2 separate regions of the Homo sapiens genome follow, and region 1 is linked to region 2. Evidence: fine-mapped expression QTL. A gene starts in region 2. The other region holds a variant in brackets. All regions are shown on one strand. Distances are from middle to middle. Region 1 overlaps ZMYM4 (zinc finger MYM-type containing 4). Region 2 holds the start of TFAP2E-AS1 (TFAP2E antisense RNA 1).

Evidence for each region. PIP is the estimated chance that this variant, and not a neighbour inherited with it, causes the effect. A credible set is the group of variants that fine-mapping cannot tell apart.
Region 1: its variant is the best candidate, but not a certain one, in a credible set for the expression of TFAP2E-AS1 in whole blood (INTERVAL, PIP 0.79).

What each region holds. Positions count from the first base shown.
Region 1 is chr1:35,318,174-35,326,502 of GRCh38, reverse strand. ZMYM4 (zinc finger MYM-type containing 4) reads right to left here. Exons shown (of 30, transcript NM_005095.3): 2 at 1,098-1,143. Among named protein-coding and RNA genes, the nearest start is that of ZMYM4-AS1, 44 kb to the left of the region's middle. The variant CAG/G (reference allele first, on the strand shown) is at 4,912.
Region 2 is chr1:35,574,385-35,582,713 of GRCh38, reverse strand. It overlaps TFAP2E-AS1 (TFAP2E antisense RNA 1), which reads left to right and starts at 4,852. Exons shown (of 3, transcript NR_183387.1): 1 at 4,852-6,048; 2 at 8,016-8,329. It overlaps TFAP2E (transcription factor AP-2 epsilon), which reads right to left. Exons shown (of 7, transcript NM_178548.4): 2 at 8,305-8,329; 3 at 7,714-7,765. RefSeq lists enhancers at 4,774-4,943, 4,954-5,023, 5,204-5,293, 4,546-5,398, 5,399-6,251 and 1 more.

The DNA.
Region 1 (8,329 bases), 260 kb after region 2:
AAATGATGCACTCAGTGAGCCCATCATGTTTATTATTGTTTGTTTCTGAACTGCATGGTGGTAGGAGGTGCTCTTGACAATGTTTGCTTTGCAAACATTTATTCCTTAAGTTAACCAACCACCACTACAAGCACCATCACTCGCTGATTCACCAAAAACTGGGTAAATAATTATCTTACTTGTTTTTATTAATCTTTCTTGTATGCATGTATAGCTCACATTTATTTCAATGTTTAATATTAGAAGTGTTTCAGATCTTTATTTAGAAGTTTGATGGTGTTTTTGTGACTAAAAATATGCCACAGGAACTTAACTCTTACTTCTATCAATTTAAACTTATGGTAAAATTGGTTTCATTATATGTCATTTCACCTAAAGTCACAATTTCCAAGAACATATCAACAACATTTAGTGAGGACTTATTATACAGCCATACAATAAAATACTGAGTAGCCATTAAAAAGGGTGCAACAGGTCTATATCCATTGACACAGAAAGATGTCTACGCAGTTGAATGAAAAAAAGCAAGAACAGTATCTATGATTCCTACACACATATATAAATCTCCATACACCATGTATAGCTATATACACTCATAGAAAAAAGTCTGGAAAGATATATATGTTAAACTTTTAAAACTGGTTATCTTTGGAGAATGGTAATGACAAAGACTTTTACTTTCTATTTTATTCATTTCTGTATTGTAAAATTGAATGTATTACTTTTATAATCATAAAAAACAAATTATTTCTAAAAATACGATAACACAAAAAGAATTTTAAAAGAAAATAAAAGACCTTAACCCAAGTAGAAACCCTTAATAGTGGTAAGTATAATCTTCCATATAGACACGAAGTATGGCTATATTTTAATATGATAACTATGAGAATAAAATATTTATTGAAAAAAAGAATAAGATTCTTACAATTCAGATTAACCTGCTGAAAGAACAGTACGTGATGAGATCTAGACTAAATCAGATTGAACCATCACATAAATCAGCCCTAACTAAACACTGTAATAGTTAAATACCACATCTAGATTAACATTCATTTTCTATCTAAAGACATGATTGTTTTTTCTCAAATGGTACTTACAGTTCTCTACAATTTCATCAAAAACTGCACCACTTTTTTGTTCAAACTGGAAAAGCAAAAAAGGAAAAAGTAACATTACCATCATATCTTCTATCATACATTCTTTTGGTATCCCTCCCTATTCCCCAAGGAGCTGTAATTTTCAACCCAAATGACAAGTGCACAATATAAACAAAAACATTGCCAAATAGAGTAAAATAAAATTTAGGATGAACCAAAGTAGTTCTCAGACCAAAGCCCCAAACCAAAAACTAAGAGATAAATCACATCCTCTCACTATAAACAACTACTTATTTTTTTAATCATTCATGTCACAAAAGAGATGATCATATATATTTTAATAACAGTAAACACAGCTAACGCTTCATAAGAACTTACTAACACCGAGAACTATGTAAAACTTCCCATCAAAACTGAACAGAAAAATTAACAGCTTTTGCTCTTAAGCTAAAGCCAAAAACATGCTGCTCTTAAATTGAAAGTGAGGCCTGTTATAGGGATGGTTCCTACTGAGTACGTTAGTGCCTAAGACAGAAGTAGAGCCATGTCAGAGGTAATTTCAGATCTTTAAACACAGAGGGAAAAGAAAGCAAAGCACCGGTAACTCCACCAAAGAACTAAAGAAAATGGCACACTTCACTCTGAGTCTCTGAAGGCCTCCTTACTTTGGAGGTTCCTGCTTCCCTGCCTGTTACTCATCAGTGAGGCAAGAACACAAGAAATGCTGCTTCTTGATAAACCTTGCCTACTGTAAGAAGCCAGAATCAGCCACCCCATTCAAGGGAGAGACTTTTAAGGAAAAAAGAACTACCTAGCTACCTACATAACTGTAGAGGAAACACAACAGCTAGCTATAGTAATCAGTAGTATCTGATATTCATAAATATGAAGAGAAAATAAAAGATCCCAGGTTTCCAAAAGAAACCTATGTGAAAGAGAAAGTTCAAGGTAAACAAACAGAACCACCACTCCAGAAGGAAACAAGTAACTTATAAAAAAGCAACTTCTTGGCTGGGCCCAGTGGCTCACACCTGTAATCCCAGCACTTTGGGAGGCTGAGGTGGGCGGATCACAAGGTCAGGAGATCAAGACCATCCTGGCCAACATGGTGAAACCTCATCTCTAGACAAAAAGTTGGAAAAGATAATTTATGTGACATGGAGGATTGAAGCACTAAGTCTAACAGCAATATCAAAGGTACCCCCAAAGAAGAAAATAATGGTGAAAGGGATAACAGAAAAAAATTTCCCTGAACTGAAGATATAAATACCATATCTGAGATTGAATGGGCCCACTAAATACCAAAGAAATAACAAAAAAAAAGGATACATCCTGGTAAAATATATCAGAATTCCAAAAGAAAACAAAAGGAGCAATTTTTTAAATGATAGTGCAGGTAATTTATAAACACATTTAACTTGAAATTCAACTATGTAAACATTGGAAAGTAAAGGAAAGCAAACTAATAGTGAAGGTCACTCCACCTACCATTCCAGTCAATGAGCTAGGCTCTAGAATGAAAGGGAAATGGGAAATGAAAAATGTCACTCTGGGCCAGGTGTGGTGACTCACGCCTGTAATCCCAGCACTTTGGGAGGCCGAGACGGGTGGATCATGAGGTCAGGAAATCGAGACCATCCTGGCTAATTATGGTGAAACCCCGTCTCTACTAAAAATACAAAAAAATTAGCCGGACATGGTGGTGGGCGCCTGTAGTCCCCGCTACTCAGGAGGCTGAGGCAGGAGAATGAGGAGAATGGCATGAACCTGGGAGACAGAGCTTGCAGTGAGCTGAGATCGTGCCACTGCACTCCAGCCTGGGCGACAGAGCGAGACTCTGTCTCAAAAAAAAAACACCAAAAAAACAAAAAACAAAAAACGAAGAAAAATGTCACTCTGTAAGCCAAAGAATGAAAGCATCTGCCTACACTGAGAAGAATCCCATTGTTTAATAACAGTTTGTTTTTGAACAATACTGTCCCAAGGCCCGATGCTATTATTCCTTCTCATCTTATACAATATTTCTCATGACTCTCTATCCCCCTAGAGCTACTGCTCATTTTTCTCTTCCCCTTGACAGCAGAACTCTTCAAAGGAGTTGTCCAGCCGGGTGCAGTGGCTCACGCCTGTAATCCCAGCACTCTGGGAGGCCAAGGTGGGCAGATCACCTGAAGTCAGGAGTTCAAGACCAGCCTGGCCAACATGGCAAAAACCCATCCCTACTGAAAATACAAAAATTAGCTGGGCGTGGTGGCGGGCACCTGTAATCCCAGCTACTTGGGAGGCTGCGAGGCAGGAGAATCACTTGAACTCAGGAGGTGGAGGTTGCAGTGAGCCGAGATTGTGCCACTGCACTCCAGCCTAGGGGACAAAGCATGATTCCGTCTCAAAAACAAAAACAAAAACAAAACAAAAAAGCCAGGCGTGGTGACTCACGCCTGTAATCCTAGCACTTTGGGAGGCCGAGGCAGGTGGATCACAAGGTCAGGAGTTCAAGACCAGCCTGGCCAACATGGTGAAACCCCATCTCTATTAAAGATACAAAAAAATTAGCCGGGCATGGTGGCACACACCTGTAATCCCAGCTACTTGGGAGGCTGAGGCAGGAGAATCGCTTGAACCTGGGAAGCGGAGGTTACAGTGAGCCGAGATCACGCCATTGCACTCCAGCCTGGGCAACAGGGCAAGACTACATCTAAAAACCAAAACCAAAACAAAAAAAAAGTTGTCTATACATGCTGCCTACGACACCTGTCTCTTGAACCCACTTCAGTAAGGCTTCTGCCTGCACTATTTCTACTGAAACTTTTCTCGTCAAGGTCATAAGCGACCTCCACACTGCTAAACCCAATGATCTATTCTCACTCCTAAAGGAAAAAAGAGAACTAGAAGATGACAACCATTTAAGGTGAAAAAATTTGGATCACAATCACTACTTCACATCAACATTAATCCCAGATAAGTTAAAAATAAACTGAAAAAAAAATAAAAGCCCTAGAAGATAGAAAAGTCTTTTAACCAGAAAAAGAGATCTTCATGAAAAAGATTTTAAAGTTTGACTATATTTCTAAAAAATTGTTTGGAAAAGCTTAAAGGTAATATGAATGAAAAAGTTGTAGTAGTAGTATAATAATGGTTAATATTCTATGTATAAAGCAATCTTGGACTCAATTAAAGAGTACTATCCCAATAGAAAGTGATCAAAGAACATAAACAAGCACTAAACATTCAATCTTACCCAAAATCAAAATTGAGATACCATTTTCTCTCAGACTGGTAAAGATACAAAATGAAGAGAGACATAGAAATGTCCCTGTTTTTAAAAAACCCAATAGTATATCTTGGAAAATTATACAGAGATCTACTTCATTCTTTCCAGTGGCTGCACAGTCTCTTATTATATTATACTGATGAACATTTTAAGGTTGCCTCCTGCTTTTTTTTTTTTAAATGCAATATTGCAGTTGTCATCTGTATACATATGATATGGCTTAGGTATGTGAGTATATCTGTAGGATCAATTTCTAGAAGTGGGATCACTAGGTTAAAAAAGATCACTAGGTTAAAAAAATTAAATATTTAATTTTTTAAAATTTAATTCCTTCCAACTAAGCTTCATGAGTTACTGGGATTATAGGAACACACCACCATGCCCAGTTTATGACACTTTTTTTCCAAGTACTTTATATGATTTAATCCAATTTAATCTCCCAAAAATCTCATAAGGTAGGTACTGTTAACACCTCTATTTTATAGGTGAAGAAATGGAGGTACTGAGAGGTTAAGGGGAAGGACACACACACACACACACACA[CAG/G]CTCTGAAAGTCTCCCAAGAAAAATGTCCAAACTTCTGTGGATATATAAGACTCTCCAAAATCTAGCCCTAATTTCCTCTACAGCTTTATCTTTTCCTGCCTTCACATTCCCATTACATCCCCATCCTGTAAGCAAATGCTCCAGCCATGATAAATAACCTATAGCTGCTCACCCAACCTTTCAGGTAGTTTCAAGCATCTGGGTCACTGTGCACAGTGCTTAAGCTTTTCCAGTCTTAATTCAATAGTAAACATATACTCAGCTTCAAGCTAAAGCTGCTACTCCTCTATGGTACCATAATCTCACACACAACCCACACACACCCAACTTCCCGAACAAAGTAGAATTCACAGCTCTTTCCTAGTGATACTACGACCAATGTGACTGTGTAACAACTATAATAACTTTACTCCCAAGTTGGGAATGCTATAAAGAATCAAGTACCCATACAGGTTTCTGAAGCTGTATGAGGTCATATCCCATTCTTTTTGTAGACCAACCTGCTGACAGATAACAGGGGTTATACAAACCTTGAGTTTTAATCCAACTTTGGAGACTAAACACAAAATCAATAAAAAGGAGCGCTTTATATAAAGACCTTTAGAATAATGTTAAAAATTAAAAACAAAAAACAATCTAGTTAGTTTCTTTCAATAGAACCTAAATGAAATCAAGATTCTATAAAGGATTAGAAATCCTACACTTCTCAAAGCCAGGGCAGGCAAAAGTGCACCCTGAAGAAAAAAACAAACAAAAGATTATTTTTCTGCTATAACAGTCTCGCAACACAGAACATTTCAGTGACCAGATATGTGGGACTTTTTCATCACACACCAAATATCTAGCAGACACCAACTGTGTGTCCTATAATTCACTTCAATTCTGACACTATCTACCTAGAATTAAGAGTAAGATCCCACAGGTTGAAGGCTCAGTCCAACAAGGCTGCCTCCCACTTCAGATACCAATCACAAGCCCCAGGCTGTGACTTGACCTTGTAACTGGCCAGCTATATAACTTGGGGTGTGCGCAACCCCCACCTCAGGTTCAATTAATTTGCTAAAGCAGCTCATGGATCTCAGGGGAACACATTTACTGGTTTATTATAAAGGATACTACAAAGGATACAGGTGAACAACCTGATGAAAGAGATGCATAGGATGATACATGCTGGGGAGAGGCATGGAGTTCCCACGTCTTCTCTGGGCATGCCACCTTTCCAGCACCTCTGTGTGGTTCAGCAATCCGGAAGTTTTCTGAACCTTGCCTTTGGGGTTTTTATGGAGGCTTCATTATGCAGCCATGATTGAGTAAATCATTGGCACTGCTGCTCAACTCGATGTTTAGCCCTCTAGTCATGTCTTGGTATTTTTGGTGACCAGCCCCATGCTGAAGCTATGGAAAGGCCTGGCCCTAAGCCCAAGTCACTCATTAGTACACAATCCACACTTATCACTTCAGAGATTCCAACAGTTTTAGGAGCTGTGTGCCAGGAACCTGGGGCAGAAACCAAATATGTATTTCCTATTATATCACAGTATCACACTAGCCCAAAGATATTTTTATTTGTTCTGTATTTAGTAGCCTAGCACCTACAACACTGCGTAAAATATAACAAAAACTCAGTCTTTGCTAAATAAAAGAATCATTTCTATTAGTTAATAAGCAGTTTGAAACTTGTTTATTTAAAAAACTTAACCATAGAGTGTACTTTAAATTTTCCAAAACTCCCAAAGTTTCCACTGAAGTTTCAAATAATTTGTATACTTTCAACAGACCACTCCAAATCAAATGTCCAATCCTATTCCTATTCCTTCAACCGCCACAATGAGTAATGTTAGTCTTTCCCTGTTGCTACTCTGATTTGGATGTCCCTTAGTTTTTCAAATGTATTAATCCTGATGATTTTTACAATCATTTTTTTCAAGTTTCTCAATGTGAGAAATTTGTTTTGGAAAAATTTTTTTGAGACGGGTCTTGCTCTGTTGCCCAGGCTGGAATGCAGTAACATGATCATGGCTCACTGCAGCCTCAAACTCCTGAGCTCAAGGGATCCTCCCACCTCAACTCCCAAGTAGCTGGAACTAGAGGTGTGCACAACCACGCCCAGCTAATTTTTTAAAATTTTCTGTAGAGACTGGGTATTGCTATATTGCCCAGGCTGGTCTTGAACTCCTGGCCTCGTGATCTTCCCACCTCAGCCTCCCAAAGTGCTGGGAATGCAAGCATGAGCCACCACACCCAGCGATATTATATTTTTTATACAGGCAGCTACCACGCAGAAATATAAAAACGACTATGCAAGCTGAAACCATGCAAAGCAATCTTAATGATCAAAGAGAAAAATTAAAATTGTTCCATGATCTTTTTTTGTCAAAACACTTGAAACGTTAAAAACTCTGTCAGTTTGGCCAGGCACGGTGGCTCACACCTGTAATCCCAGCATTTTGGGAGGCCGAGGCGGGCTGATCACCTGAGGTCGGGAGTTCGAGACCAGCCTGACCAACATAGAGAAACCCTGTCTCTACTGAAAATACAAAATTAGCTGGCCATCATGGCCCATGCCTGTAATCCCAGCTACTCACGAGGCAGGAGAATCACTTGAACCCGGGAGGCGGAGGTTGTGGTGAGCCAACATCATGCCACTGCACTCCACCCTGGGCAACAAGAGCGAAACTCCGTCTCAAAAACAAAAACAAAAACACTGTGTCAGTTTAAATGTGTAGGGAAATGAAAAAATATTGTATAACTAATATTTGCTTACTACGTTATAATTTAAAATGTGAGAATCAAAGGGTTTTATTTATTTGTAAAAAATCTACCAGGAGTATGGCTGGGCACAGTGGTACATGCCTGTAATCCCAGCACTTTGGTATGCCAAGGCAGGCGGATGACTTGAGGTCAGGAGTTCAAGACCAGCCAGGCCAAGATGGTAAAACCCTGTCTCTACTAAAAATACAAAAATTAGCCAGGTGTGGTGGCACATGCCTGTAATCCCAGCTATTTGGGAGGCTGAGGCAGAAGAATCACTTGAACCTGGGAGACGGAGGTTGCAGTGAGCCGAGATTATGCCACTGTACTCCAGCCTGGGTGACAGAGCGAGACTTCGCCTCAAATTAAAAAACAAAAAAACAAAAAACCCTACCAGGAGTAGACAGTGCCTGCCTTTGTCTTTTCCTATGTAACTTGTGATACAGAATAAGCAACTTTTCCATGCCTTAACAAACTGTCAGCCGGGCACAGTGGCTCACCCCTATAATCCCAGCATTTTGGGAGGCCAAGGTGGGTGGATCACCTGAGGTCAAGAGTTCAAGACTAGCCTGGCCAACATGGTGAAACCCTGTCTCTACTAAAAATACAAAAATTGCCAGGCATGGTGGCACGTGCCTGTAGTCACAGCTACTCGGGAGGGTGA
Region 2 (8,329 bases):
AATAGCCACCAAACTCCAGCTTGAACAACTTAGTGAGACCTATCTCTAAAAAGTTTTTTAATTAAAAAAAAAAAAGAGAGCAGTTGCTCACTCCTGTAACCCTAGCACTTAGGGAGGCCAAGACAGGAGGATCACTGGAAGCCAGGAGTTTGAGACCAGCCTGGGCAACATAGCGGGACCCTGTTTCTATGAAAAAAAAAAAAAAGATAATTTTTAAAAATGCAAAAAAAAAATTAAAATTTTAAAAATAGAAAAGAAAACGATAAACCACAAACTGGAAGAAAATATTTTCAAATCATATATCTGATAAAGGACTGTATTCAGAATATATTATATAAAGAACTATTATAACTCAACAATAAGATAGCAACCTAAATAGAAAATGGTCCAAATATGTAAATAGACATTTCACTAAAAATGAGAGATGAATGGTTAAATAAGTACATGAAAAAGTTCTTAACATTATTAGTCATTAGGGAAATGCAAATTAAAACTATACTGAGATACCACTTGATGGTTATAATAAAAAAGACAGGGGCCAGGCACGGTGGCTCATGCCTGTAATCCCAGCAATTTGGGAGGCTGAGGTGGATGGATCATGAGATCAGGAGTTCGAGACCAGCCAGCCTGTCCAACGTGGTGAAACCCCGTCTCAACTAAAAATACAAAAATTAGCTGGGTGTGGTGGTGCGTGCCTATAATCCTAGCTACTGGGGAGGCTGAGGCAGGAGAATTGCTTGAACCCAGGAGGCAGAAGTTGCAGTGAGCCGAGATTGTGCCACTGCACTCCAGCCTGGGTGACAGAGAGACAATCCATCTCAAAACAATAAATAAATAAAAAAGGCCAGGCATGGTGGCTCATACCTGTAAGCCCAGCATTTTGGGAGGCCAAGGCGGGTGGATCACCTGAGGTCGGGAGTTCAGGACCAGCCTGACTAACATGGAGAAACCCCGTCTCTACTAAAAAAACAAAATTAGCCGGACGTGGTGTCACGCACCTGTAATCCCAGCTACTCAGGAGGCTGAGGCAGGAGAATCACTTGAACCCAGGAGGCAGAGGTTACGGTGAGCCGAGATCACCTCATTGCACTCCAGCCTGGGCAACAAGAGTGAAACTCCATCTCAAAAAAAAAAAAAGAAAAAAAAGACAATTCTAAGTGTAGGATGTGGAAAAGTGGAACCCTCACACATTGCTGGTGAGAATGCAAAATAATACAGCCACTTTAGAAAATAGCTTGACAGTTTCTTAAAAATTAAACCTAAACCGACCATATAATCCAGCAATTGCACTCCTAGGAGTTTACTCAAAAGCGCTAAAAATATATTTCTATAGTAAGGCATGTATGTGAATGTTCATAGCAACATTATTTAAGACAGCTAAAAAGTGGAAACAACCCAAGTGCCCGTCAACTGACCAATGGATAAACAAAATATGTTACACCCGTACAATGGCATACTATGAAGCAATAAAAAGAAACAAACTGCTGATAATAGTTTGTTTCTTTTTATTGCTGTTTCTTTTACTTAGCATAATGTTTGGGGCGAGCCTCAAAAATATTATGCTAAGCAAAAGACGCTTGATGCAAAAGTCTGCATATTTATATATTCTATTTATAGAACATGTCCAGAATATGCAAATTTATGGACAGAAAGCAGATCAGTGGTGGCCTAAGGCTTGGGGTGAGAATGGAGAGTAGCTACAAATGGGAACTTCTGGGGATGGCAGAAATGCCTCAAAATGGATTTTTTTGTGGTAATGGTTACACAACTCTACATTTACTAAAAATCATCAAATTATATTCTTACAATGTGTAAATTTTAGGTATGTAAATTTTACCTCAAAAAATCGTTAAAAAATGCAAGTTCCAGGGCCATACTTCCAGGGGTTCTCATGCAGTCAATGTGGGGTGGTGCCCAAGAAATTTGCTTTTTTTTTTTTGAGGCAGAGTCTCGCTCTGTCGCCCAGGCTGGGGTGCAGTGGCGCAATCTCAGCTCACTGCAAGCTCCGCCTCCCGGGTTCACGCCATTCTCCTGCCTCAGCCTCCCGAGTAGCTGGGACTACAGGCGCCCGCCACCACGCCCAGCTAATGTTTTTTTTGGTTTGTTTTTGTTTTTTTAGTAGAGATGGGGTTTCACCGTGTTTGCCAGGATGGTCTCGATCTCCTGACCTCGTGATCCACCCGCCTCGGCCTCCCAAAGTGCTGGGATTACAGGTGTGAGCCACTGCACCTGGCCAAAATTTGCATTTTTAACAAGCACCCCCTGGGGGTCCTGATGCATGTGGTTCCTTGGACTACACTTAGGGTACCACTGGTCCAAAGCTTGAAGGGGTTGGAGCAAGAGGAAGGTAGACGGGAGGAGTAGTGACCTGCTCCCTGGCCCACACTGGGGCACAGCATGTGCAAATGCCCTCCCTAGAGTCTCCTCATCTCCCCTGCTGGGACCTGCCGATTAAGTTTCCTTCTCATCAACTGCCAGAGGGTTTCTTTCTTTCTTTTTTTTTAAGATGGAGTTTTGCTCTTGTTGCCCAGGCTGGAGTGCAATGGCACAATCTTGGCTCACTGCAACCTCCGCCTCCCGGGTTCAAGCGATTTTCCTGTCTCAGCCTCCGGAGTAGCTGGGACTACAGGCGTGCACCACCATGCCTGGCTAATTTTTTTTGTATTTTTAGTAGAGATGACATTTCACCATGTTGGTCAGGCTGGTCTCAATCTCCTGACCTCAGGTAATCCACCTGCCTCGGCCTCCCAAAGTGCTGGGATTACAGGCATAAGCCACTGCGCCCGGCCCAGGGTTTCTTTTACATATAATTTCTATCCTTCACTCCCCTGCTCCAAGGTTTTCCATAGCTCCCACCATTTTCAGGTAAAGTCCAAACTCCATCTGCACATTTTTTAAGTTGCTTTCTGGGGCAGAGAGTAGCCTGGGAGGCAGGTGAGAAAGGGTTGTGGAAGTGCAAGTTCAGTAAATTTTTGATATTTTGTTTATCGTGGATTTTTGCACTATTTTCATTTAAAAAGGCCAAGCGTGGTGGCTCACGCCTGTAATCCCAGCACTTTGGGTGGCTGAAGCGGGCAGGTCACTTGAGGTCAGGAGTTCAAGACCAGCCTGGCCAACATGGTGAAACCACGCCCCTACTAAAAATACAAAAATTAGCTGGGCGTGGTGACAGGTACCTGTAATCCCAGCTACTTGGGAGGCTGAGGTACGAGAATCTGAGAGGCAGAGGTTGCAGTGAGCTGAGATCGTGGTGCTGCACCCCAACCTGGGCGAGAGAGTAAAACTGTGTCTCGAAAAAAAAGATTTTTTTTTTTTTTGAGACAGAGTTTTGCTGTTGTTGTCCAGGCTGGAGTGCAATGGTGTGATCTTGGTTCACTGCAACCTCCGCCCCGCAGGTTCAAGGGATTCTCCTGCCTCAGCCTCCGGAGTAGCTGGGATTACAGGTGCCTGCCACCCCACCCAGCTAATTTTTGTATTTTTAGTAGAAACGGGGTTTCACCATATTGGCCAGGCTGGTCTCGAACTCCAGACCTCAGGTGATCCACCCGCCTCGGCCTCCCAAAGTGCTGGGATCACATGGTGTGAGCCACCGCCGCCCGGCCTCTTTTTTTTTTTTTTTTTTTTTTTTTTTTTTGAGATAGTCTCCCTCTGTTGTCCAGGCTGGAGTACAGTGGCATGATCTCGGCTCACTGCAACCTCTGCCTCCTGGGTCAAGCAATTCTCTTGCCTCAGCCTCCTGAGTGGCTGGGATTACAGGCTAGCGCCACCACACTGGGCTAATTTTTGTATTTTTAGTAGAGATGGGGTTTCACCATCTTGGCCAGGCTGGTCTCGAACTCTTGACCTCAAGTGATCCGGCCTCCCAAAGTGCTGGGATTACAGACGTGAGCCACTGCGCCCGGCCTATTTATCTTGATTACTGAGTTTTTTGGCACCCTCTCAAATTCTGTCCCAGAAGTCAGTATCTCACTCATCTCACCCATGTCCTGGCTGCTTAGAGATTGTCTGGGAAGTGGAGACCCTCCCCAGCTCCCTCCTCCTTCTCCAGGGCCAAAGACAGCAAGGAATAGGGCGACTGTTTACATCAGCTCCTGTCCTAGAGATCCCCTGAGATTGGACAGCTGAGCCCGTGGAGAGGGATTCCCCACCCCCAAGTAGGCAACCACCCACTCTCCTCCAGAGGGAACGAGGGATCCATCTCAGTTCTCATCCTTGACCACTCCCCTCCAGCTCTGATTGTATAACCTGAAACCCACACACGGTTTGTAACTTTTTTTTTTTTTTTCCGAGACGGAGTCTCGCTCTGTTTCCAGGCTGGAGTGCAGTGGCGCGATCTTGGCTCACTGCAATCTCCGCCTCCCGGGTTCAAGCGATTCCCCTGGCTCAGCCTCCCTAGTAGCTGGGACTACAGACGCGCACCACCATGCCCGGCTAATTTGTTTGTAACCTTTTTAACCTGTCTGGCTTTTCCACAGGGAGAGGATTTGCATATGCTGTGTCCTGTGTGATGAAAGGAGCCCTTTTTACACACCCCCTCTTTCAATGCACTCAGACTTCAAAGCCCATCACTCATTCATTCAACAAACACCCACTAAGCACCTCTTGAACCCGGTTCAACTATCTCCCCTCTAGGCACTCACCCAACCTCGGGCACTCTCCGCGCCTCCTCTGAGCTCCTCCCGCGTCCCATACAGCCCCTGCTCACTGCTGGAAAATATTCCTGTTAAGCTCCGTCTCCCCACCAGTCCTGCTTGCTTTCTGTGTGTCTGGGATAGGTTGCAAAACTGGAGGTGACAAATGTGGGCAGGAAATGGAGGGCTCCCTTATACTCCTAGGGTCGGCCTCAGCCCTGCCATTTCCTGCCCAATACCGCGGATGCAACTGGCATGGGACCCGGAAGTGTGTGGTAAAGCGCCGGGGCTTCGCCTGGCCGCCCCTCCCGGACGCTTGCCTGCAGTCAGCGAAGCTTTTCCAACCCAGGTCTGGGCCCTGCGAGCTCCAGGTGCCTCTGCCCCGCGGCGCTGGCGAAGTCGAAGCCCGAGAACGCCCACCGCAGCGATGCGAAGGCCGCTTCTGGGGTGGGGCTGAGGCTGCAGCTGCCTCCCTTTCGCACCAAGGACCCCAACCTTCAGCGACGCAGCCGCCGCTCCCGCCCAGGCTGGGAGGCACTGTAGGGATCCGACGCTTCAGGTGGCCAAAGAGCGACTTTCTCTGATTCCAGGGCCCTGGCGGGGCAGGCTCCAGTACCGCACTCGGCGGAGGCCGAAGGTCTGTGGGGCAGGACAGGAGTTCCTCGTGCCGTCGGAAGGGCCGAGGACGAAGGAGGGCGCTAATTCACTCCCCACTGGGCTGGCGGCAACGCCGAATCCCGCAGTGACCGCGGAGGGCCAAGGTGAAAACTGCTGGGGGCGCCGAGGGCAGGTGTGGGGAGGGGCGGCTCCAGGGAGCAAGGAGCCCACCTGCCTCGCCGCCGCAGCTGCCCTGGGTCGACCGCCCACGCTTTCCCCTGGGTCACGACCTCCGGATCCAACTGTGCCCGGCTCCTGCCCCTTCCCCTTTGCTGCTGCTGCGCGGGCTGTAACTTGACGTCTAGGCTGGGGCGTCCAGGGCGCAGTCTCCGCTCAGGTCGCCAGCGCTCCACTCGCTCCACTGGGCCACAGACCCGCTGGCGCTGGGGTCCCGCTGGCGCTGGGGTCCCGCTGGCGCTGGGGTCCCGCTGGCGCTGGGGTCCCGCTGGCGCTGGGGTCCCGCTGGCGCTGGGGTCCCGCTGGCGCTGGGGTCCCGCGGTTGTGCACGTGAGTCCGCGTGGCCCCGTCCCGCGCGGTTGTGCACGTGAGTCCGCGCGGCCGCGTCCCGCCCCGCTCCAGGGAGCCAGCGCGCCGCCACCTGGGATGTTAGGACTCTCGTTGTGTTCTTTGGACTGCTTTGGGGGATTTCGGCGTACCCCTAGGATCTAGGAGTTTTGGAAGTTGTTTGAGAGAAACCAGCTCTGGGAGGGCCTCGCATCCAGTCTCCTGTCTCGGCTTCGGACCGGGGTTCCGGGTTAAGGTGCTCAGAGGAACAGCTGATCCTTCTACCCTTGCGCAGGGCAGAGATCCCCAAACCTCTTTCTAAAATGCAGGGTCTTAGTCTTTCTCAGGGAGTCAGTGAACCTAGACTCCCAGTCTCTTGAGCCCAAGCATGAATAGGGAACTGGGGACCACCACCATGCTCATATTTCTGGTGGCCAGGAAGTCCAGGCAGGCTTTTGCCCACTGCAGACGGATCTCTTTCTTCAGGGGTCAAGAAAGGCTCTGTACAGTAAGCCAACCAAGCCCCACCAGCAGAGCTGCGCTGCAACCAGGTTCCTAGTGTCTTTCCCACACTCCCAGTTCCAAGCGACACAGGACACAGCCCCAATTCCACCTCCCCCCACCCACTTCCTGCCCTGTTGCCTCATCTTCCCTGCTACACACTCCAAGTCATCCACCCAACCCCCAGCTCCTGGTAACTCAGCCCCAGCTCCTGGAAGTCCAGCCCCAGCCCTGCTACCACCACTTCCACCTTGGCCTCCCCTGAGAACAAGTGGAGGGCAAATAGAGCCCAGGCTTGAATTCACTCGTTTGAAAAACAACTCAAGCCAAACCCTGTGGGAGCAGTGCCTGCCTGGGGCACCTCAGGCTCATGTGCACCTCTGAATTCTTTCGGGCACCTGCCCCAAATGTAAAGAGGCTGCTACCCAATGCCTGGGCCCCTCTGACTCTCTGCTCCTCTCTGGCTGTCTCTCTGTTTTTGTCGTCTCTCACCTTCCCCTGTCATGGCCAGTACTTGGTCCTCAGGCCAGAAAAGGTGGATCCCGTGTCCCTGGATTTTACTAATGCCAGGAGTCACATAAATACTCCTATATATACACAGAGAGGGCCCGCGCATGCTTGGAAATCCTCAGATACCAAAGAACAAAGTGCAGGACACAACAGAGATACTGTACATATTGAGAAATGTGTACATCCCCCAAATGCAGAGAAATGCACACCAACATACAGAGACACACCTCACAAACACATTCACAGAAACAGACACACTCACACTCCAAGAAATACTAAGACACCCATGAAGGGAACATTTCAGACATGCACAGGACCCTGAACTCACATGGACACAGACACCCAGGAGCAGGTGGGCCCTGACTCAGGTGCACACAGCCTAACACACAGTACTCACACACAAGCTCCCCTAAGTCTAAATGCCGCAAGAGACTCCCACAGAAAGAAAATTCCCCCAGAGGCCTCCAAGGCCCTGCCTGGAAGGAAGAGGAAGAAAGTGCCCGCCAGGCACCGAAATGCTAAGGCACTGTAAAGTGAAAATCATTTCCCCAACTCCGTGGGAACAGCACTTCCATTCCCATCTCTTAGGGAAACAGGGAAGTGGTTTAACTCGTTCTGCAAATCAACTCCAGATCCACAAGAGTGCCCTCCCCCTCGGCGGGGAGAGGCCAGGCTCCCAGTGCTGCAGCCCAGTGAATGCTGATCCGCTGAGGCCCACCCCAGGCCACAGGGTGCTGGGCAAACTCACCAAGCCCGCACGTCTGCCTAACATCTGGCTGGGCCAGGAAGAGTGCCTGGTGGACACCCAGCCTGGCGACACACAGGAGGCACGGCCGGTGAAGAAAATGGATCTGTGCACCAAGGGCCTGCACCATCTCGCCGGGCTCTGCCCTGACAGACCATTCCTTACCTTTCTTGATCACGGACTGGTCTAGGAGGCTCATTCCCGGCTCGTCCATTGCCTGCAAATAGCAGAGGGCAGCGGTGAGGGCGCATAAAGCCCTAGCCGCCCATGTCTTCCCAAGCCCCTGCCACCCAGGGTCTCTGTCTGCTCCGCCCAAGGCGCACCAGCTTCGCTTGGGGCGGCGACGGGCAGGCCCAGGAATCGCTATGTCCAGGCACTGAGCTGGAGCCCTGGGCATCTCACTGTGCAGTGCAAAAAGGGAATTTTGAATCTTACACTGGTAACTATTATGCTTCTCTTCGCCCCAGGTGCAGGCTGCCCCATGGATGCCACACGTGGCAGCGGGGAGAAAAGAAGTGATTCGGTCCCTGCCGAGGGTTGCTGCCACCCACGCACTGCTGGCGGACTCAGTGCCAGGCAGCCTTGATGGCCAGGCAACGTCTAACCCAGGAGGTGGGACACATCCTCGGAGTCACCAGTGAGATGTGGCGAGCTGGGAGAAAAGTCGGCTTCCTGCATTTGTCACCTTCTGCCTCCAGCCATGGTAGTAAACCACCGCGGCCAGTCCCGACCCATCCCGGATCCCTCGGGTCTCACCTGCAGGTCCTCCAGACCGGGGGCC